4 separate regions of the Homo sapiens genome follow, and regions 2, 3 and 4 are each linked to region 1. The links come from fine-mapping of genetic effects on gene expression. A gene starts in region 1. Each other region holds a variant in brackets. All regions are shown on one strand. Distances are between the middles of the regions.

Evidence for each region. PIP is the estimated chance that this variant, and not a neighbour inherited with it, causes the effect. A credible set is the group of variants that fine-mapping cannot tell apart.
Region 2: its variant is the best candidate, but not a certain one, in a credible set for the expression of CPZ in lung (TOPMed, PIP 0.78).
Region 3: its variant is the best candidate, but not a certain one, in a credible set for the expression of CPZ in subcutaneous fat (GTEx, PIP 0.50).
Region 4: its variant is the best candidate, but not a certain one, in a credible set for the expression of CPZ in esophagus mucosa (GTEx, PIP 0.67).

Annotation. Positions count from the first base shown.
Region 1 is chr4:8,589,306-8,594,666 of GRCh38, forward strand. CPZ (carboxypeptidase Z) reads left to right here and starts at 3,460. Exons shown (of 11, transcript NM_001014447.3): 1 at 3,460-3,616. The coding sequence starts at 3,529. GPR78 (G protein-coupled receptor 78) reads left to right here. Exons shown (of 3, transcript NM_080819.5): 3 at 1-718. RefSeq lists an enhancer at 4,463-5,137.
Region 2 is chr4:8,503,748-8,509,352 of GRCh38, forward strand. It overlaps a transcript of TRMT44 not described here. Among named protein-coding and RNA genes, the nearest start is that of TRMT44, 66 kb to the left of the region's middle. RefSeq lists an enhancer at 435-1,322. The variant C/G (reference allele first, on the strand shown) is at 3,105.
Region 3 is chr4:8,490,200-8,495,804 of GRCh38, forward strand. It overlaps a transcript of TRMT44 not described here. Among named protein-coding and RNA genes, the nearest start is that of TRMT44, 52 kb to the left of the region's middle. RefSeq lists enhancers at 117-833, 941-1,459. The variant C/T (reference allele first, on the strand shown) is at 2,280.
Region 4 is chr4:8,557,315-8,562,761 of GRCh38, forward strand. No RefSeq gene overlaps it. Among named protein-coding and RNA genes, the nearest start is that of GPR78, 20 kb to the right of the region's middle. RefSeq lists an enhancer at 2,657-3,371. The variant C/T (reference allele first, on the strand shown) is at 3,627.

The DNA of each region.
Region 1 (5,361 bases):
AGGAAGCAGTTAAAAACATTAAAATACAGACCTGGCCAGTTCAATCCAACCCAGGGGTTCCAAGCAGGAGGTGGGGCAGGTGGGCGTCATGCCCTGATTCACAGAGGGCACAGGTGGGTGTCATGCCCTGGTTCACAGAGGGCACGTGAACTCGAGACCGTGCTGCACCCCGGTGCCCCTGTGCTTATAAGGGAGGGCACGTGCACAGCAGAAGCAGGTTGTTCCCCATTTAAAGTTCTGGAGCCCAGGCTGTGAGCTCCTTGGCTGAGCCCTCTCCTGTCCCTGGGAGCTCCCCAGGTGCGAGGAGCCTGCCAGCCAGTGGGGCCTACACTCTGTGTTATTGCATCTCCGCCAGGCTAAAAGCCTTGGTCACTACTTTAGAGCCACTCAAGGAAACGCGTGCACCCTGCCCTGCTGGAAGGCACCATGGTTAGAGGGAGGCACACTGTTTCTTAGAGACGGGGACTGCTTGCTGTCATGTTTCGCCTTCCTCGGCAGCTCCATGGAATGTTCTGGAGCAGGCATCTTAGGGCATTCCCTCCGCACTTCTCTGCCAGCCCATGTGGCTCCCACACTGGGCTATCCCTTGCCTTAGGCTTGTGGCCTTTTTTTTTTTTTTTTTTTTAATTTGAAAAATATTTTTCATGTGCACTTAAACGTGTTGTGGAATGATGCTGGGTCTCAAGAATGCTGTGAATCAATAAACATTTTATTCAGAGGGTGTCTCATTTCCATGGAAAGGGGGGAATTCTGCCGTGCATTAGCCACAGTCCAATTACCAGGATAGCAGAGCTTTCTAGATGCCTGGGCTTGCAGGCAATCCCCTGCTGGGCTTCCAAGACCTCCAGGCTAGGCCCTGCACTGTGTGCAGCGAGCGAGGGAGCCTTCTCCTGTTGTTTTGACGGTGGAGCTGCAAGCTTGGGAGGCTTTCCCGTGGGTGGGCGGGAAGCAGAGAGCCGTGGGGGCTGTGAGGCTGGCAGGGAGCTTGCAGGACATAACTGCTCATTTATTTTATTTGGGGGACCGGAGTTTTTTTATTGATTCCATCTGTCAGAGGGCTGCAGCATTCCATGACGGGTAAGGCAGAGGGAGGCCCTGTGGGAGCCCAGAGTGACAGTCCTCTCTCTCAGCTTGCCTTCTTGTCCTTTTGAGACCATGATCTGCTTCTCCTGAGCCTCCCTCCTGTTCACATGGGATACAAAACTCAGCCAGAAGGGGTTCTGAGCCAGGAGCCCTCTCTCCATCCCCTCTGTGCTTGCTGACCCTCGCCCTCCTGCCTCACCTGGGCACCCATCCGTAGCCAAGCCTCCAGAACCCTTCCTGGTCCCTGTCGAAGCAGTCCTTCCTCTCACCCACCCTCCACCAAGCAGAGCCAGCTCCTAGAAATGCAGCTGAGAGCAGGTTGTGTTCCTGCCAGAAGCCCTGAGAAGTCCCCAGGCTATGGTCTCTGCTCCTGAGCCTGGCATTGCTGGCCCTTTCTGTTCTCTGTCCTCACTGCTCCCCACTCCTATCTACGTGGCCTCGGGCTAAAGTACTGGGTGCCCTAGTCTACTGGCCTCTCCCCAGGGGGCCTGGATCCTTTCTGGGCCTTCTCTTGGTACTTCCTCCTCCTCTGCTTAGCCAAGTCCTTCCACCTGACTGAGGCAGACACAACCCTCCCTCCTCAGGTGCTCATAGCCCCAGCACCCTTCTCTCAAGGGTCCAGCCATAGGGTGGGTAGGAACAGGGTCAGACCCACTTTTATCCCCAGCACCCGCTCTGCAGCAAGTGCTGGGGATGCCGGCATGCACACACCATGTCCAGCTGGGGAGCAGGCTTCCAACGACTGACAGGCTCCTCCGGCTGCCATGCTGACCCTACCCCAACCTCATGAGCCCCAAGGTGGGCCGCTCTTTTGAGCGGTGAGTCTGTGCTCTTTTGATGACACAAAGTGGCTTCTCTCCTAGAAACTTGTCCTGCAGGGCACCCCCCATGGGACCACACACCCGGCCCCAGGGGCTGTGCTCTTGCAGACTTGGCTCTGGCCACACCTGCTGGTTCACTGGCCCCACCTTGACTGCACAGGTGTGGCTGGGTCCTCTCCCCGTGGCCTATTGCCCGCTGGGCTGGCTGGACAGTGTCTGGGGATTTGGTGTGATGGGGACGACTTGGATGCCTCTTTTACCCCTGGGAACGATTAACCCTGTCTTGTGATTTGCCCCTGATGAACCATTTGGTGGGTTGGGCCCTCGTGGGTGAGACGCTGTGGATTAGAGGCTGTCCCTTCCAACTTAACTGTGGAAGAGAGAAGCTGGTTCCAGGAAAGATGACCAAATTCTTCTCCCCGAGTCTTAAAAAGTGACACAAGCTAGCACTCAATTTCCTCAAATCTAAAATGCCGTTGATTTTAAACTGTCTGTTTTAGGTACCACTGGGAAGGAAAAGCCCAGAATGAGGGCTGTGCTAGGAGACACCCTCAACAGGTGGGCCACTCACGGCTGAACGCTCAGCGTCCACGAGAACTAAGCCTGCCACAGCAGGGGACAACAAGGAGGCACGGTGTCCCCACCCCAGCTCTCAGGGAGGAGGAGGAAAACCCTCCCTGGGACTGTGCACTGCCAGCTGGGGCTCGGGAAAGCATGGAGTCTGAATTCGCCCTCAGACCTGGGCTGGAAAGCTCAGACAGGGAAGTCAAAGACTGTGGCCCCGGAGGCTGGCCGGGGCAGTCAGAGTTGCTTCTGGAAGGACCCAGCTGAGTCCAGGCAGAGAGAGGGCAAGGTTGAGCACCAGGCGCCCCAGATCCCGGGGGGTATTGAAATGGGCATCTTTGAGCAGATGACCTGCAGGAAGCAGCACCTGCTGGGTGCCAGCAATGAGTTGGGGCCACAGTGAGTACTGTCTCCATTACCCCAGCCTCTGGGCGAAGGGGCTTGTCCTAAGTCTCAGGGCTGGCTGAGTGGCAGCTGGCTCTGGGGACTGCTACTGGTGCACTGGTATAGCTGGCAAAGGAACCCATGAGGCACATGGCTCCTAAAGGTCCAGCCACCCAGCAAAGCCCCCTCCCCGCATCCACACAGGGGACAAGGGTCAAAAGGTGGGGACATGCCTTCACTTTCCTCACCTGACAGGCCCTGGTCTGCTGGGATCAGCGCTGCAGCCAGAACCCGCATTCACCCGCGACGCAGCCTGTGCAGGGGACCAGGGGTTTTAGGCAGGATCAGCAGGGAATCTGCATACCAGCTCCACAGTGCACTCAGGTGGCAGATGGGGAAACTGAGGCCCAAGGAGGGGCGGGGAGCCCCTTGGACGGGGCGGGGCACTCCGCCCGGGGCAGGCAGGGGCCTTTATCTGCTGTCCTGCCCCTCCTCCTCCCCCAGCGGCATCCTCTCTCTAGCTTCTGGCGCTGCCCACTGTAACCCGACTCCGGCATTTGCGTTTGGGGCGCCCTCCCTGCGCCGGGGGCGGGAGCCCAGCGAGCGCAGAGCCCCGGCCCCGCGCGGCCCGAGTGCCACATCACTGCGCTGGCCGTCCAAGGTCCGCCGCCCCACCATGCCGCCCCCGCTGCCGCTGCTGCTCCTTACAGTCCTGGTCGTCGCCGCTGCCCGGCCGGGGTGCGAGTTTGAGCGGAACCCCGCCGGTAAGGCCGTCCCCTGCCCCCACCCTCCACCCTCCACCCTGCAACCTCTGGGGAGTGTGATCCGTCGCTTCCCAGGGGCCCGGGAGCTTTCTTCCAGTAGGTCACGCGCCTATGGTCCTGGCGAGAACGTCTCCAAAGTGGGCAGCATGTGGCCTGGGACTGGTAGTGTGACCTCTCCCCTGGACGGGGACACCAGGGAGGCTCTCTACGGCATCCAGGCCGGGACCCCAGGCAGCAGAGGGTCACCACGCCTGGGCCGGGGGGTGAGATCTTTTTCCTGTCGGACACAGCAGCAGGGGCGCCCTGCAGGTGGGTTCGAGGGAGCAGGTGCCAGGACTTTGCAGGGTGAGAGGCCATCTAAGGTCCCCGGGTCTTTCCAGGAACGGGACAGTCTCTCTGGGCTGTGGCAAACTCTTGACCCCTCCCTCCCAGCTGGGGCTGTGATGTGGACAGCAAGTCTCCGGAAGTGGCCCTAAGGGCTGGGAGGGGGCGTGGGCCCCCTGGAGGGATCTGGGGCCCGGAGAGGGAATGGACGCAGGGATCCTCTGGGAGGTCTGCCCGCACGACCTCACCCAAGGGGTGTGCAGCGGGGGTGGGGAGCAGGAAGGTAGAGGCTGGGGGCTGGATCCTGGGCTCCCGTCTGGCCTCACGGCCTCTCCAGGTGTGGGGGTGCATCTAGCCAACCGTGCTCAGGACTCTCATCAGAAGCAGACATCTGGGCTCCTGCGGGAGTGGGGCCGTGTGTGGGTTCAAGGGTGCAGGGTGTCAGGTTCTGAATCGCTTGTTCTCTGGGGTTTGTGGATACCTGAGAACTGCCTGAGCCCTGCGAGTGGATGTGCCAGGACCACAATACCCCACCCCAGTGCGCTGTGTCGACACTTTTCCTTTCCGTCCTGTTGATGCCTGGATTTTCCTCCCACCTCTGCTCCTCGCCTTACCTCTGGGCTCTTTTCTACCCGCTGCGTGTGTGCTCATGCAGGTGTGCAGGTGGGGTGCTGCTGGAGCTTGTGCCGTGTTGTGGGTGGGCCTCCCCTTGGCCCCTGAGAGCCCAGACAGTATCTAGAATCATAGGCTTGTTGGAGACCACAGCCCCCTCCTCCAGGAAGCTCTCCTGACCTGCCCTTTCCCAGGAAGAAATGCAGCCTCCTCCTCTGCACGCAGGCAGCACAGACCACCCTGTCCTCACCCAGCAGGATGCATGGGCTGGTCTCTGTCCCTGGCAGGTGCTGAGCACAGCCGTGGCATCGGCAAGTGTTTCTGGGAGAAATCACTCATCCCCCAGTCCAGTCTCCCCTCTTATGGACGAGTGTGGAAGTCAAGGACGTTTCCAGCCCACAGGCAGAAGTGGGCAGAGCCGGTCACCTGCAGTGCAGGTCCCCCACCCCGGGCTGCCATGTCCCTGTCTCGCCATCTGGGTCTTGCTGAGAGCAAGCCTGGTGCTCTCTCCTCTCTGCCTCACCCTTCCCTGGTGGAAGATTCCCTGTCCTCACTGGAGCCTGGGGACGGAGGTAATTTTCATGTCCTAGGGTCTGGGATTCAGATTCTGACTCCTCAACTCTGCTGTGTGACCTGGGCAGATGGCCTGACCTCTCTGACCTCATTCAGGTCTCATCCCTGACCCAGGCACAGCCACTGGTCAGTTGAGGAGGGGGAGGACTGACGGGCTGTCACTCCCCTGTTGAAGAAATGCTGCCACCTCGTGGTTAAGAGGCTTAGAACTATTTCAAAAGCCGCTTTCAGACCAG
Region 2 (5,605 bases), 85 kb before region 1:
GGCCCTGGCTCCCAGTTCTGTCCTATGTCCCCGCATCTCTGGCTGTTCTTCAGTGCCCTGGTTGCTTCCCCTTCACCCTCCTAAATGTTGGAGTTCCGGAAGGCTCTGAGCCCCTCTTGTTCTTATCCTCCTGGCTAGCTTCGTCTCCAGCAAGCCCTCACACGCACCTCGGTGCCAAGGCTTGCAAACCTCAGCCTGTCCTGGCCTCGCTCCCAAGCTATGGGACAGAGCGTCTCCCCCGAGGCTCCCGAGCCTGTGGTGCCCTCTGCAGTCCCCGCACCCGTCCACACCTGCTCTCTCCTGCTCCCCCTCCAGCCTCTGAGCCTCTGAGGTTGGTGGGCATCTTGGTGGTGGCTGCTGGGAGGGTCTCAGGGCGGGGCAGGGGCTGCATCAGGGGTCTGCACTGCATGGAATGGACATGGCATGGTGTAAGCCCCTCAGCCTGAGATTCAGCACCATTTCCATGCTGCTCATGTCCCCACCTCCTCGGCTTTCCCCATGGCCCACCTAAGTCTCCTGCGCTCCTGCAGGGCTGAGCAATGGCCCCCATTCACTAAGGCAGGGAATCCCCTCTGCCCGTGCCTGCTCCCTTCCCCGCCAGGTACCCGCGCCAGCTTTACTGCCTTCCCTCTTCCTCCCGGGCCTGCGCTGCTGCCCTCCTCCCCTGGAGCTGTGCCAGCTCCAGCTTTTCAGCCAGCAGCTCCTGCCCCGCCCCACTCATTGTGTCCAGACCTGGGCTCCATGCTGACCCCCAGCGTGTACGGAGCTCCTGCCATTCCTTGGGTGTGGACCTGTGCCGAGTCTGTAGTGTGCACAGGTCCTGCCAATCCTTGGGTGTGGACCTGCGCCAAGTCTGTATCCACCTTCAATAGCTCATCTCTTCCACCCGGGAGGAAGTTCCCTTCATCCTCCCTGTGGGGAAGAGGGCACTGAAGCTTGGCAGAGCTCTTCCTGGGGTCTCAAGGGTCTGCTCCAAACCCTTGCTCTTGCCCCTGTCACAACCCAGGCACCCTGGCTGCACCTGCAAACTGCACTCCATGGTGGCAGCCCTGCCCTGCCAGTGCCAGCCCCGTCTGCCTCACCACCCCAGTCCCTGAGCTCCCTGGGGCTGAACGCCACTTCTCTGGATTCTAAATAGGCCCCCGCAGGGTACCTGTTGCTGTATCTACCACTTCCCCCAGCCTCCTGGTCTGGGTCCTGCTGATTCTGGTCATTACTCACCTTCTGCTCTACCCACCCTCCCCTGCATGCTGCCCCCAGCCGCAGAGGAATGCCCCCTCCATGTCCCACTCCCTCCACCAACAACAGCTGATCTGTCCTTTCTCCTGGCTGCGTGACCTCTCAGGAAGAGGCGGTGCTACACTGAGGGCCCTGGCAGCCTCTCTAGGTCCCTGTCCCTCACCTTTCAAAGGAGAGATAGGACAGAGGTGGCAGAAACTGGCTGGAGCAGGCTTCTGTCCGGGTGCTGCTCCGGCTGTGACTCCTCACCCCTCAGAGCTGCATCTTCCATCTGCGAACAGGAGGCTGCAGCCCCTGAGGAGGTGGCATCTCTGCCTGTGGGAAGTCAGGTGCACTGAGGCCAGATGCAGGGAGGGTGCTCCAGGCTCAAGGGTGCAGGAGGAGCCTCCTGCCCTGGGAGGCCAGCACTCAGCCCCAGCTCTGCCACCTTGACCTCCCAGCACCTCTGCAGCCCGGGCATCCTAGTCTGCAAGACGTGGTAGGGTGGATGGAGATCCCCAGGGTTCCTCCGTGGCCCTGGACAGGCAGCCGGTGTGGGGGGCATGAGTCACGCCCTGTGGGGGAAGGGGAGCAGCAAATGTGCCTGCCCTCCGCTGCACTAGCTGCACTGTTTCATGCCCATGCAACCCTAAGAGATGGGAGTCCTCACTGTCACCCTCTCATTCAGATGAGGAAGCAGAGACAGAGAGGCTGAGACACTTGCTCAAGGCCACTGATATGGTTGGGCTCTGTGTCCCCACCCAAATGTCATCTTGAATTGTAATCTGCAGGTGTTGAGGGAAGAACCTGGTGGGAGGTGATTGGATCACAGGGGCGGTTTCCCCCATGCTGTTCTGGTGATAGTGAGGGAGTTCTCATGAGGTTTGATGGTTTTGTAAGGGGCTCTTCCTCCTTCTTGCACTTCTGTCTCCTGCCACCATGTGAGATGTGCCTGCTTCCCCTTCCACCATGATTGTAAGTTTCCTGAGGACTCCCCAACCATGTGGAACTGTGAGTCAAGTAAACATCTTTGCTTTATAAATTATCCAGCCTTGGGTATTTCTTCACAGCAGTGTGAAAATGGACGAATACACACAGCAAATCACAGCACCATAGTTGGGGACGAGGGCTGTGTGGCCCTGAGTATGTGCTCCTGATGAGGACATGGGACACCAGCTAGAGAAGGGGCACTCCCTGCTCTCATGGGGACATTCACAAGGAGACCTGGTGCTCAGTGCAATGTCTGGGGACCTCCTTGAGACCAGGGCACGTGGGTGTCACAAGCTGCTGAGGGGCTGTGCCCTGCTGACACTGCTGAGGGCGCTTGGAGTGCAGAAATATTTTCAACAGAAGTGGAGCAGAAGGGATTTCTCCTAAACCCTCTGTTACCCAGAAAACGGCATGGACTGGAATTCCGCATTTCTTTAACAGTCTGTTTAGCCAGATCCTGACTCCACCAAAAACAAAGAAGCCCTCAGCCGCCTGCTGGGGTGGGAGGTAGTGACTGTCCTTCCAGCCCGGGCACCACTCCATGCTCATTGCTGATTTGGCCTCACTTAACCTTTGGTGCTGGGCTCTGCCGCATTCCAGGGTCCCTGTGTGACCTGGGCAGCCCCTTCCCCCCTCAGCCTGGGGTCCTCTCGGGCTGGGAGGTGATGGCTCTGCCCCAGGGGGAGCGGGCCAAGTGCTACGTGTGCACTTCTCTGTGGAATTCTCACCTCCTGGGCCAGCCCCTGGGCGGAAGGAGGCTGCTGGCCCCGCGTGGCCTGCCCTGTTGGAGGCTCCGCCAGAGCCCACGTCTGCAGTGCTTGGAGCCATTTCTTGGCACAAATATAAAAACAACTCCAGCTCTGCCGTGCTCCAAGTGAGAAATGCTGCTTGGTGAG[C/G]TGGGCTGGCTGGGCTGCTGGCCCTCGGTCAGCCGCCTGCAACAGGCAGGGCCACGGGAACCTCATCAGCAGAGCTTCCTGGAGGCAGCGTGGGTGGAATTGTGGAATTGTCATCAGACAGGCCTGGGATGGAGCTTCCCCACTGGAACGCAGCTGGCTGTGGACAGGGAGTCAGCTGCTGCCTGAAGGGACAAGGAGGCCTGCGACCACAGCAGGTTCCCACCTGGCCTGGGCCTGGAGGCCAGCAGGCACCTTTCAGGGCTTCCCAGCTCAGCCCCCACAGCTGGATGGAGCTGTGTTCCCTGCAGAAGTGTGGCCGGCTCCGAGCAGGCACAGGGGGCTCTTTCCCTCCACCTCAGCCCTGGCCTATGTGGGCACAGCAGAGGACGTGCTCACACCATGGGGGCCCCCGACCAGGCGAGGCCAGGGCGTGTCCACATTGGGGAAGTGAACGAAGAAGGACAAGTCTATTTGAGGGGCTGGCTGATAGTTTAGAAGCCCAGAATCGCCTGGCAGTGAATTATTCTGCTGAGTAACACTGTACCCAGAGGGATGTGGCTGAAAACCCCGGGAGGGAAGGCTGCGTGCGGGAAGCACTCCCATCCTCCCCCAGCGCCTGCTCTGGGCGTTCCGGAGCTCAGCGTGCATCCTTGCCTGTGGGTTCTGGGACCATCCTGCCATCTCCCTCCCCTTTCTTTCCCCTTTCCCCTCCTTTCCTTTCTCCTCTTTCTCCTTCTTTCTGTTTTCTTCTTTCCTGGCTGAAGCCAGAATTCATTTCTGTTACTTGCATCCAAAAAGTGTTCAAACAAGCATGCTTGCTGGGATCCTGGGTCCTGCCCCTGGTCACCTGGAGGCAGGGCTGTCGCTCCATGTACAGACAGGAGTCCAGGAAAAACTTGAGGAGACACAGCGTGTTCCGGCCCCCGCTCCTTCACCCCTGCCCCGTCCCCCAGTGACAGATCCGGCAGCAGGCAGAGCCTTGAGCCCAGAAAGCCCAGGCCCCCTGGGAAGCTTAGGTGTGGCCTCACATCTGGCAGTTTTTGCTTTGATTTGTTTTGTTTTGTTTTGTTTTGAAATGGAGTTTCGCTTTTGTTGCCCAGGCTGGAGCGTGACGGTGCAATCTTGGCTCACTGCAACCTCCAGCTCCCAGGTTCAAGTGATTCTCCTGCCTCAGCCTCCCGAGTAGCTGAGATTACAGGTGCCCACCACCATGCCCAGCTAATTTTTGTATTTGTAGTAGAGATGGGGTTTCACCATGTTGGCCAGACTGGTCTCGAACTCCTGACCTCAGGTGATCTGCCTGCCTCGGCCTCCCAGAGTGCTGGGATTACAGGCATGAGACACTATACCTGGCCTCACATCTGGCAAGTTTTACAGCTCAGGTTTCTGTGTGGGGTCCTGAGGCAGCCCCTGGGCAATTTCGTATGGCTGTGGGAGGGTGAGGAGGGACTTTCAGGACGTGACCTTGTTATTAGCAGGGGCTGCGGCTGGAGGTTGGCCTGCCGGGCCCTGAGGGTGGGTCTGGGTGCCATGGGTTGTGTCTGTTGTGTGGGTTATTGGTTGGGCCTGGGGAGCCCATGGGAGTCTCCAAGCCCCCTCCCCAAGTGACCCCCAGCCAGGCCTGGCCACCTCGTCCCCTCTGCTGGGCTGCGGAGTTGAACCTGATGTCTGCTCAGAGTCACCTCTGAGTGGTGCAGACATTCGGAAGTGTCCGTGGGACTGGATGGAAGGGACCCCATCCTCAGCCTTCATGGCCGGGGTCTGGCTGACCGACTGTGGCCATGGGGTTGCGGCGCCTTGGGCGGCAGATCCCCCATGAGTGTGAGGTGCTGGCTTCTGCACCTCCCATGAGCCCACAGACACACAAACACAACCCCGTGTTTGCTGATACATCCCAAGGCTTTGGTCTGTTGGGTTTGGGGTGAGACCCTTCCCTTCCTTTACAGATGCTCACCTGTGAAGAGGGAGAACGTCGCTGTCCGAGCAAATGTCTCTTCTGTGTCCTTGGCTGCCTTCCTCCTCCTCCTCCCGCCGCCTACTTTGGGGCCCCTTCCTCTTCTCAGCAGTGCCACTGACCAGCCCAGCCTCATGCACCATCCCGGCCGTTGCCCTGGAGGGCTGGCAGCTGGCAGGACTCAGAGAGGGCCCAGCCATCACCCCTCTCTTGAGCAGATGACAGAGTAACACTGGGAGTTACTATGGACACTGGAAAAGAGAACACAGATGCGTCGGAGATTTTGTAGTTGCAACTCTTCTCTGGTAACCAAAAAACATCAGGACATTCATTGCAAGTGCAACGCTGAGGCTTTGAAGGAACCAAAGAGATCCTTTGCAGCCCTGAGGACGGAGGGAGGGAGGGAAAAGGGAGTGGGGTGGGAGGGAGGGAGGGAGTCCACTGCAGAAAGTGGCACTGATCCCTCTGAGCCTCTCCGGCCTCATGTGTAAGATGCCAGCTGCCCCGGAGTGGCAGTGGCGAGTGAGTGGCTGTGTAAGGTGCCCAG
Region 3 (5,605 bases), 99 kb before region 1:
CCCTATCCTACAAGCTTTGGATGAGAATGATTTGAGTAGTGACTCTGTGTCTGGAATTGGTGGGTTCTTGGTCTCACTGACTTCAAGAATGAAGCCACAGACCCTCGCGGTGAGTGTTACAGCTCTTAAGGTGGTGCGTCCGGAGTTTGTTCCTTCTGATGCTCAGATGTGTTCGGAGTTTCTTCCTTCTGGTGGATTCGTGGTCTCGCTGGCTCAGGAGTGAAGCTGCAGACCTTCGCCGTGAGTGTTACAGCTCTTAAGGCAGCGCGTCTGGAGTTGTTCATTCCTCCCAGTGGGCTGGTGGTCTCGCTGGCTTCAGGAGTGAAGCCGCAGACCTTCGCGGTGAGTGTTACAGTTCTTAAGGCGGCGCGTCTGGAGTTGTTCATTCCTCCCCGTGGGCTCGTGGTCTCTCTGGCTTCAGGAGTGAAGCTGCAGACCTTCGCGGTGAGTGTTACAGCTCATAAAAGCAGCGTGGACCCAAAGAGTGAGCAGTAGCAAGATTTATTGCAAAGAGCGAAAGAACAAAGCTTCCACAGTGTGGAAGGGGCCCCGAGCGGGTTGCCACTGCTGACTGGAGCAGCCTGCTTTTATTCTCTTATCTGGCCCCACCCACATCCTGCTGATTGGTAGAGCCAAGTGGTCTGTTTTGACAGGGTGCTGATTGGTGCGTTTACAATCCCTGAGCTAGATACAAAGGTTCTCCACGTCCCCATCAGATTAGTTAGATACAGAGTATCGACACAAAGGTTCTCCGAGGCCCCACCAGAGCAGCTAGATAGAGAGTGTCGACTGGTGCATTCACAAACCTTGAGCTAAACACAGGATGCTGATTGGTGTGTTTACAAACCTTGAGCTAGATACAGAGTGCCGATTGGTGTATTTACAATCCCTGAGCTAGACATAAAGGTTCTCCAAGGCCCCACCAGAGCAGCTAGATACAGAGTGTCCGATTGGTGTATTTACAATCCCTGAGCTAGAGATAAAGGTTCTCCAAGGCCCCACCAGAGCAGCTAGATACAGAGTGTCGATTGGTGCACTCACAAACCTAGAGCTAAATACAGGGTGCTGATTGGTGTGTTTACAATCCCTGAGCTAGACATAAAGACTCTCCACATCCCCACCAGACTCAGGAGCCCAGGTGGCTTCACCTAGTGGATCCCGCACCAGGGCAGCAGGTGGAGCTGCCTGCCAGTGCCACGCTGTGCGCTCGCACTCCTCAGCCCTTGGGTGGTCGATGGGACTGGGTGCCGTGGAGCAGGGGGTGGTGCTCGTCGGGGAGGCTCGGGCCGCACAGGAGCCCATGGAGTGGGTGGGAGGCTCAGGCATGGCGGGCTGCATGTCCCGAGCCCTGCCCCATGGAAAGGCAGCTAAGGCCTGGCGAGAAATCGAGCACAGCGCCGGTGGGCCGGCACTGCTGGGGGACCTAGTACACCCTCTGCAGCCGCTGGCCCGGGTGCCAAGTCCCTCACTGCCTGGGGCCAGCAGGGCTGGCCGGCTGCTCCGAGTGCAGGCCCGCCAAACCCACGCCCACCCGGAACTCCAGCTGGCCCCCAAGCGCTGCACGCAGCCCCGGTTCCCGCTCGCGCCTCTCCCTCCACACATCCCTGCAAGCTGAGGGAGCCAGCTGTGGCCTTGGCCAGCACAGAAAGGGGCTCCCACAGTGCAGCGGTGGGCTGAAGGGCTCCTCAAGTGCCGCCAAAGTGGGAGCCCAGGCAGAGGAGGCACTGAGAGCGAGCGAGGGCTGTGAGGACTGCCAGCACGCTGTCACCTCTCAACTCAGTCTCCCACATGGCGTGGCCACCCTTGTGTCTGTTAAACTCTTTCTCTACAAAAATGCCATGGTCTTTCTTTGTGCAGTGGTCAGGAAAAACCCCTTGGGCAGATACAAAAGTTCTTTCAGGCATCTGTTTCCAGAATAGCGAGGTTTCCTCCATATTGAAGATTTGCTGTGGCAAGTAAATCTCCTCCATAATCAAGCTTCCAAAACTCTTCAGCTGCCTTCACATCAGCACCCACAGACTCAGCATTCATGTTAACATTATGTAATGCATAACGATCCTCAAATCATGTAAACCACCCGGAACTGGCAGTAAATCTGATACCAAAGTCAGGTCCAGCCTTTCCTTTCAACATCAAAAACATACTTTTTGCTCTGGCCATGACCGCCGTGGTGCTGAAACCGCCTCTGCAAAAATTATAACAGAAAATTATGACCGTGAAAGGACAACTAACCTAACCGACTCCATCTTGCTTCTAATCTCCAAGCTGTCCTTGTTCAT[C/T]CCCGGGCGTAGGCTCAACCTACTTTGGGAGGAACTTAGTTTACAGTGTGAAAGGAAAATAAATCTTGGGGCCCCAAAATCACTAACCCAAAGCAGAAAGTCAAGCTGGGAACTGCTTAGGGCAAACCTGCCTCTCATTCTATTCCTAAAAAAGATAGCTACTACGATTAAAAAGCTACATACCTCCCTCACAAGGAAATTCCTTGTGGACAAATGACAGAACTCAAAGCCACCTCTGCTCACTGAGATAGATGCGTCTCTGCCTGCCTCCTTTGGAAAGGCCAATCAGAAACTCAAAAGAATGCAACCGTTTGCCTCTTATCTACCTATGACCCAGAAGTCCCCTCCCTGCTTCGAGTTGTCCCACCTTTCTGGATGGAACCAATGTATACCTTACATATACTGATTGATGTCCCATGTCTCCCTAAAATGTATAAAACCAAGCTGTGCCCGACCACCTTGGGCACATGTCGTCAGGACTTCCTGAGGCTGTGTCACGGGCACACATCCTTAACTTTGGCAAAATAAACTTCCTAAATCGACTGAGACCTGTCTCAGATATTTGGGGTTCACAATGGTTTAACTTTGAAACAAAGACAATAACAACTCTTTTCCAAAACAAAGTCCCTGCCTGCCTGAGGATCAGACTGCCTTTGTAGGACTAACAAATTTGCCATGAGATTAGAAATTATGGTGTAGGAGTAATGCAGCTGGAGGTGGCGGGATTCTGAACCTCCTTAAATTGCTCCTGTGATAACCTAAGATGAGTGCTTAACATCTTTTACAGACCCTGTATTCAGTGGATCAGCTGGCACCACCCAAATAGATAAATTGGCCCATCTGGTCTTGTGGCCCCCACCCAGGAATGGACTCAGCTCAAGAGGACAGCTTCAGCTCCCTAAGATTTTATCTTGGACCCGACCAATCAGCACTCCCGACTTACTGGCCCTCTACTCACCAAGTTATCCTTAAAAACCTCAATCCCTGAGTTTTCAGAGAGACTGATTTGAATAATAATAAAACTCCGGTCTTCCACACGGCCGACTCTGCATGAATTAAGCTCTTTATTGCAAATTTCCTGTTTTGATCCATCAGCTCGGTGTAGGCAGTGGGCAAGGAGAACCCTCTGGGCAGTTACAGTGCTGAGAGGCATTCACTCCTCTGTCTGGTCTTCAGTCTATGTTGGATCCAGGCACCTCTCGACTTTCCGTTAGTCACCTTGCTCTCAGCGCAGCGGATCCTTTTGGCCTCCACTTTCCATTGGTCGCCTTGCTTTCACAGAGGCTGGCTCTTTCAGCAGCTGTCGCTTTGTCCTTGCTCATCAGGGCCACAGCTCTGGTGGAATGGGACCTGCCTGCCTGGCGAGCATAACCACCTCTGATTTTCCACCTTCATGGTCCTTAGTCACTTGTCATTTCGTTTTCAGGTCAGTCACTGGCAATAATGACTCTTACTGGTCTCTTACCAGCAACATTAGCTGTGGATCTCGTATGCTTAGGGACCATGATGAACAAACCACACGAGATTAAATCAGGCACAAGAGAAAAGTGTGCAACTGAGAGATGCAGAAAACACCAGGTGTGTGAGGCAGCTGTGGGGTGATGGGACGCACAAAGTGTGAAAGGAAAATCAATCTCGGGACCCCCAAATCACTCAGCCAAAGGGAAAAGTCAAGCTGGGAACTACATTAGGCTAACCTCCCATTCTATTCCTAAATAAGATGGCTGCATAGGTTTTAAAAAGCTGCATACCTCCCTCACAATTTGTTCCCTAGGAAATTCCTTGTGGGCCCCAAGATCTTCACCCTAAAACAGTTGTGTTAAATTTCACCCTCACAATGTAAATGGAGAGCTGATATTCACAGGTACAGGACAAAGGACAGAGCTCAAAGTCATCCCTCTGCTCACCTGAGACAAATGCATACCTGATGGCTTCCTGTGCCCTACGTTTGTTTTATCTTAGTAGAAATGCAGGTTCACTGAGCCAGACTAAGTTGTGTATTCAGTGAAAGACTGATCGAGGACTCAAAAGAACACAACTGTTTGTCTCTTAGCTACCTGTGACGTGGAAGCCCCTGCTTCCAGTGGTCCCACCTTTCCAGACCAAACCAGTGTTCATCTTACATATGTTGATTGATGTCTCATGTCTCCCTAAAAATGTATAAAAGCAAGCTGTGCCCGACCACCTTGAGTGCATGTCATCAGGACCTCCTGAGGCTGTGTTATGGGTGTGTCCTTAACCTGGGCAAAATAAACTTTCTAAATTGGTTGAGGCCTGTCTCAGATATTTTGGGTTCAAATACCCAAGGGAGGTATGAAGCTTTTTTTTTTTCTTCCAGTCTTTGCAGCTGTCTTATATAGGGATAAAATGGGAGGCAGGTTGCCTGATGCAGTTCCCAGCTTGACTCTTCCCCGTGGCTTGGTGATTGTGTTCTGGGAGCACCGTCGTAGGTGTGTTCTGTGGTGGACTGAAACATCGCGATGTAGTGCATGGTAAGCATTAAACACGGGTGAACGGTGTGCTTTCACCAGCTCCCAGCTGCTCTTTCCCAACACGGGCTTTCATCCAGGAAATGGCTGCCATGGCTGTTTGGAACCACCTGACTTGTCCACCATGAGAGTCCTCAGTCAGGGGAAGACAGAACATTTGGAGACCCCAGGTTAGGGTAGGGAGACTGTTCACACCTGGAACAGGAGGCAGCTGTGCCCCTGTCTGTTCCTCACAGTCCTGCTGCACTTGGGCAGTTTGCATCCATTGTCATAGGTAAACCCCCATGGGGTGTTAGTGACCTGATGCCATAGAGGAGAAAACTGAGGCTCAGAGAGGTTAAGTGACTTGCCCAGAATCACACAGCAACTGCCAGAGTCAGGATTTCCACGCTGGGCTGCAGCCTCCTGGCAGGGCTCTTCCCTGTGAGGCCCTTGACCAGAGGGACACTCGGGTTTTAGTCTGGGGGGCATGCCTTTGTTTTTCACCCTCCAGTCATGGTGCATGGTGGTTTCTCATTGGTGATGAAGTGGAGCTTTCAAAATGAATCCATTTCAGTAAAAAAAGTGGGTCAACTAAATACAAAATATTAACTAGGTGACAGTTTATTTGGTGCATGGAGAGGGACGACATCACAAAGGCAGCCCTCAAATTATGCAAGCTTGGAAATCACTGCCTCATATCTCCTTCCAGAATCAGGAGCAGGCAGCACCCGTGTCTCAGCGCACACCCTGTCCTTGTCTTGCACCTGATAGTGAGGCAGGAGAATCGGGTCTGGAGGCAGGGAACCTGAGGCCGATTCCTGCTGACTGGATACCAGAGGCAACCTCTTTTCAACC
Region 4 (5,447 bases), 32 kb before region 1:
GGCCTGGAGGTGAGGAGGGGCCTGAGCATTTTGTGCAGAAAGTCCGAGGGCAGTGTGACCTGAGCATCCAACTAGGGGACCCTCGTGGCTCCTCACTGTGGTGGGAGGCCCCGCCAGCGGGTCCTGTGAACAAGCGGAAAGTGGGTTCTGGGAGGGAATTTTTAGTGAAAAGAAGAAGGTACTCAGAGTGCCAACCCTTCATGGCATGTGGAAAGAGAGGTTACTTACCCCAGAGCCAACATGATCACAAGGCAGCCAAAATGGGCGGGGGCCATTGGCAGCCTCAGTTTTCTCATCTGTGAAGTGGGTGCTGTGAGCCTCCTTCCCTGCCACATCCGGGCTCGGGCCCTTGGCGTCCTCTCCTCGGGACAAGTGGGGCAGCCCTTCCCCAGCTCTGGGACACCTGTGCCCCTCCCACACACCCTCCGCTCAGCACAGGACCCTTTAAAGCATCTGCCCCCGCTGACCCGCTGCTTTGGGAATCCAGCTCCAACAAGAGGCTTCGAGCTGCCCCCAGCCCACCACAGCAGTGTTTGGCACCCCTGCCGCTCCCTCTGCCACGGTCACTCCTCCAGCCTGCTCCCAGCTCCCACCCTGGCCCACAGCTCTCGGCACAGGCCCCAACCATTGAGAGCTCACCCCAGTGCTCAAGGTTGGGCTGGGGGCCTCCCATCTGCCCCTCCTGATCCCTCACCTCCCTGTGCCCGGGTCTGTCTGTCTGTCCACCCCAGAGGCCACCCCTCCTTGATCATTGCTGTGACCCAGCACCTGCCTGAGGACCCTGGGAGCTGGTTCAGGTGTGCTTGGGGGGCGGTGGGGGGGCACTGATTAGGCAGGGCATGTTTGGTGCCACCTACCTGTTAGCTCGCCCACCCTGTCCCCAGGACTGGCTTCCTGGCTTGGCACAGAATTTGGCTGGCTTTCCCACTGAGAGGCGGCAGTGATGAAGAATGGGCCAGGGACAGTGCTGGGACTCGTGGAAGGGCAGTGAGGGTCAGCTGGGCTCTCTGCTTCCCGGCCTTCCAGGAAGTCACGGGTCGCCTTCTCTACCTTAGCCTCAGTTGTGCCCCAAGGAAGGGGGTGAAGTTTCCCATTGTTCCACGTTTCCAGGGTGGGAGTTGGGATCTGGGGGCAGTGGAGAGGCGGGGTGCCATGCTGGGGAGGTGTTGTTAGAATGGCCATGGTGGCATGCTGTACACTCTTGCCCTCCCCCAGCCCCACCCAGGCCTGCCTTGTTCCTGACTCACCCAGGCTTGTCCGGGAAGCCCGGCCAGAGCCACCATGCAGAATTCAATCATCCTGAGTGTGGAGCCAGGCCCAGCCCTCACTGGCCACAGCTCGGCCCCCATTTCCCTGGCCAGCACCGAGCCGCAGGGGAGGGTGAGAATCTTTGGCATCTTGGCATACGTTTGTTGTTCCAGAGTCGGGCTGTGCCGAGGGAATGTGCTGCTTCCCCCATTTTGCAGACAGGGACACTGAGGCTCAGTGAGGGTGAGGGCTCACCCAGGTTGCAGAGCCTGCCCAAAGCTGGGTCTTCTGGCTCCAAGTCGGGAGCACGCTGCACACCTCATGCCATGGATCAGGCCTTGAAGCTCTCCGTGAAGGTGTACATTGTGCCCCTCATTGACCGGCAGAGAGCCAGGCCTCAGGGACGAGATCCTGGACAGGTGAGTTTGGGTGGGAAGAGAGGAAAGAGAAACTGATGTAGTTTAGGGAGATCTCTGGTGGCGTGGATGGCAGGGCCCCTGGAAATGCTGGTTCAGCCTCAGCAGGAAGGGGTGCCGACCGACCACAGGATCACCCAAATTAGAGACCCGCAATCTGTCTCTCCCAGGCTGTAGCTTCCCGCAGCAGGGCTGTGGGCGAGGCAGTCACCATCCTGCATGTTTTGGGGCAGCAAATTTCCCTTGCACCTGCTCACTTCCTGGGATCGAGGGAAGACCAAGTCACAGACCCCAGCCTCAAGGAGCCCGAGAGGAGACAGGCAGGCAAACAGGCACCCAGTGAGGGGCAGTGGTGATGCTGACGAGCTGTGCCTTCAGCTCACTCTGATGGGCATTGGGAGGGTCGGTCTTAGCTGTCAGCTTGGTCAGGCGATGAGCCCAGGTATCCAGTCGAACATGAATCCAGGTGTTGCTCCGAAGGTATTTGTGGGTGTGATTAAAGTCCATAATCAGCTGTGGGTGTGATTAAAGTCCACAATCAGCTGCCTTTAAAGGAAATTGTCCTAGATCACCCGGGTGGGCTTGATCCGGCCAGTTGAAAGGCCTAAGAGTGGAATCAATCCTGGGGGCAGCAGCTGCAGCCCATCTGAACTTCCAGCCAGCCCCGCTGATGACCTGCCCTATAGACCTCAGACTCGCCTAACTGGCTCCGTGATCCTCTAAGCCAATTCCTTGCAATAAATCCCTTGTGATAAACCTCCCACTGGCTCTGCTCCTCTGATTGAACCCTGACTGATACCATCGTCATAATCCAGCTGTGAGAACTAGGCTTTTTCAACTATTCTTTCATTCCACAATTATTTGTTGAGCACCTACTATGTGCAGTCTCTGGAAAGGCTCAGAGTCTAGCAGAGACCACAAAGTTCAAGCCCTTACCCCTGCCTCTAAAGGGGGAGGCCCATGATTAAACAAGCCCAGAGGTCAAGAGTGGACCAGGTGCCATTGCATTGTATTTGAGGAGGTGAGGTCATCTCTAGCCTTATCTAGGGAGTCTCTCCGAGGGCACAAGTGTCAGACAGGCTGGAGTTATTCAGGCAGGCCCTCCACAAACCCTTTCACCCTTTCACTCTCTCTGAGCCTCGGCACCCCGCCCCACCATCTGAATAGATGGCACCTGAGCCGTGCTTGGTAGATGCTTAGTTTCTGTCTGTGCTAGGGGCTGAGAGGTAGCCTCCCTCCCTCGCTCCCATGGACAGGCATCCGTCCTGGCCTGGGTTTGGCTTTGTGGCATCAGATGGAGGACAATCAACGGCAAAGCCTTAACTCTGGAAACGGATCTGGTTTGGGGTCTTGTCCTTCCTACTGGCCTGCTGGCTGCAGGGCCGTGTGGGGCCTCAACACTGTCAGCAGCTTAAGGCAGGCCATTCGTACACCCCTCCTCCATGCCTCAGGGTCCCCAGACTTGGCCTTGCAGAGGCCACAGCTAGGGGGAGGGTTGGGGCCTGGACAGTGTTGTGCTGGTAGATGTTGAACAACCAGCCCCGCAGGACAGGAGCCTTGGTTGGAAATGTTTGTCGGTTCCACAGTGTGAATACTTCCACTGCAGCCCATCTCCAGTTACCAATGCGGGGTACTGTGCATGGAGCTGGAGAGAGGTAAGTACAATCGCTTCTCCACCGGGCCCGGGCTTCTCTCAGGTTTGAGGCTGGAGGTGAGTGAGCTCCCCCTGGGAAGAGGCTGGGCTGCCGGGGGAGGAGCTGTCTGGGGGCGAAGAGGGGCCCACTGAGCCCAGGACTCTGCAGCCAGCCTGGCTCGCTGGCACAGCCGGGAAGATTTCCCTAAGACTCACCACTCTGTGTGGGGCTCTCAGTAAATGTTTATTGAGTGATGCATGATGGATGTTAAGACATTGAATCAAATCTTGCTCTGACCTTTGAGTCAGTCTGTTGGGTGTGAAAGAAC[C/T]AGCTTTTCTGCTCTGTTTGCTGGAAGCGTCTGAACCCCTCCTGGGGCCTCCTGCTCTCACCCTCCTCCCCTTCTCTGGGACCGTCCTCAGGGAAGGCCTCTGGGCTTGGCGTTTCACACAGCCTCTTTCCCACCTAATCTCAGGCGTTCTTGCAACAGCCCGTGGAGGTAAACAGCTGTGTCTCTCAGTTCCACCACTGGCCACAGGCAGGGCCTTGGGTGAGGTTTTCATCCTCCCTGGGTAGTGGTTTCCTCTCTCCAAAAATAGAGGGAGTAACAATATCTACTGCATAGGCTTGGCGAGAGGACTGCATGGGGTAACACAGGAAAGTGCCTAGGCTGGGTGCGGTGGCTCACGCCTGTAATCCCAGCACTTTGGGAGGCTGAAGCTGGCGGATCACGAGGTCAGGAGTTCGAGACCAGCTTGGCCAACATGACGAAACCCTGTCTCTCCTAAAAATACAAAAATTAGCCAGGGATGGGGGCAGGCACCTGTAATCCCAGCTACTTGGGAGGCTAAGGCAGGAGAATTGCTTGAATCTGGGAGGCGTAGCTTGCAGTGAGCTGAGATTGCACCACTGCACTCCAGCCTGGGCGACAGAGTGAGACTCTGTCTCAAAAAAAAAAAAAAAAAAAAAAAAGCTCCTAGCATGGGGCTTGGGACACGGTGAGGACAATTAAATGTGAATATCACCCTCGTTATTATTGCATATCATCATCACCACCAGCAGCACCTTCATGACCACCATCAGCACTACCAGCATCACCGCCATTATCAGCACCGCCACCCTCACCATTGTTGCTATCATCCTTGTAAACCAAGAAGTATCTGAGACAAGTCTCAATCAGTTTAGAAGTTTATTTTGCCAGGGTTAAGGACCTGCTCAGAAGAAAAGAACACAGATTGACAAAAACGGTGGGTGGTCTGTGCCATTCTCCAAAAATGATTTTGAGGGCCTCAATATTTAAAAGGGAGAAGCAGGCTGGAGGGGAAAAAGGGAGGGTGTGGTTGCATTAGTGAATCCTTATGTTGCAAGAGAAAGGGAGCAGGTATGGAAATAGTCAATTAGGTATTTGTCTTGTGCTCATAGAGTTGCTATCTGTGCAAATAACTTTTTATCTGTAGCTCTCTATCTGCTTAGGAACAAGAGGAAAGGCAGCTTCTTGCACAGTGGGGCTTTCAGACTAATGTTCTTCCAGTTGACATAGTGAATTGTGCTCAAGATTTTATTTTCCTTTCACTTTTCTCCTCCCACCCCCATTAAAAAAAATCTTTCAAAGAAAGCATCTTAGAAGAAAACTGAGTCTCTGGTCTTGGGTTTTGTCTGATGTCTCTCGTGGCTAGGATGGTTTATTCTGAGATGGCTTAGGTCCCAGGTGGTTAGGAAAGCTGACTTTTAGTAAGTTATGTAGTCTCGAGTCTCACAGAGAAAAATAGGGGAGGAAAAGAGAAAAACAATGGGAGGAATAACAACAAAAAGGAAAACAATCCTGGAAAACTGACATAGGCCATATGCCTCTGAAGTCCATACGTCAGTCAGTATGCAGGGATGAAAGTAGCTTAGGTCTTAATATATCAATAGGTTGCTGTTATTGTCTTTCAAGGTTTGTCTAGCTTCAGCTCACAGGGCTTAAAGGCACCGCTTTAATTTTTTTGTGATTCTAAATCAGGAGAAGATGGAAGGGAAAACAATGAAAAGAAAGAAAAAAATTGAAAATATTATTCTGGAGACTTGTAGCCAGGAAAAATTGTAGGATTCAGTCCAAATTGTAAAAAATAATAAAAATTGAAAAATCCTGGACAAGGCTACAATCTAATAA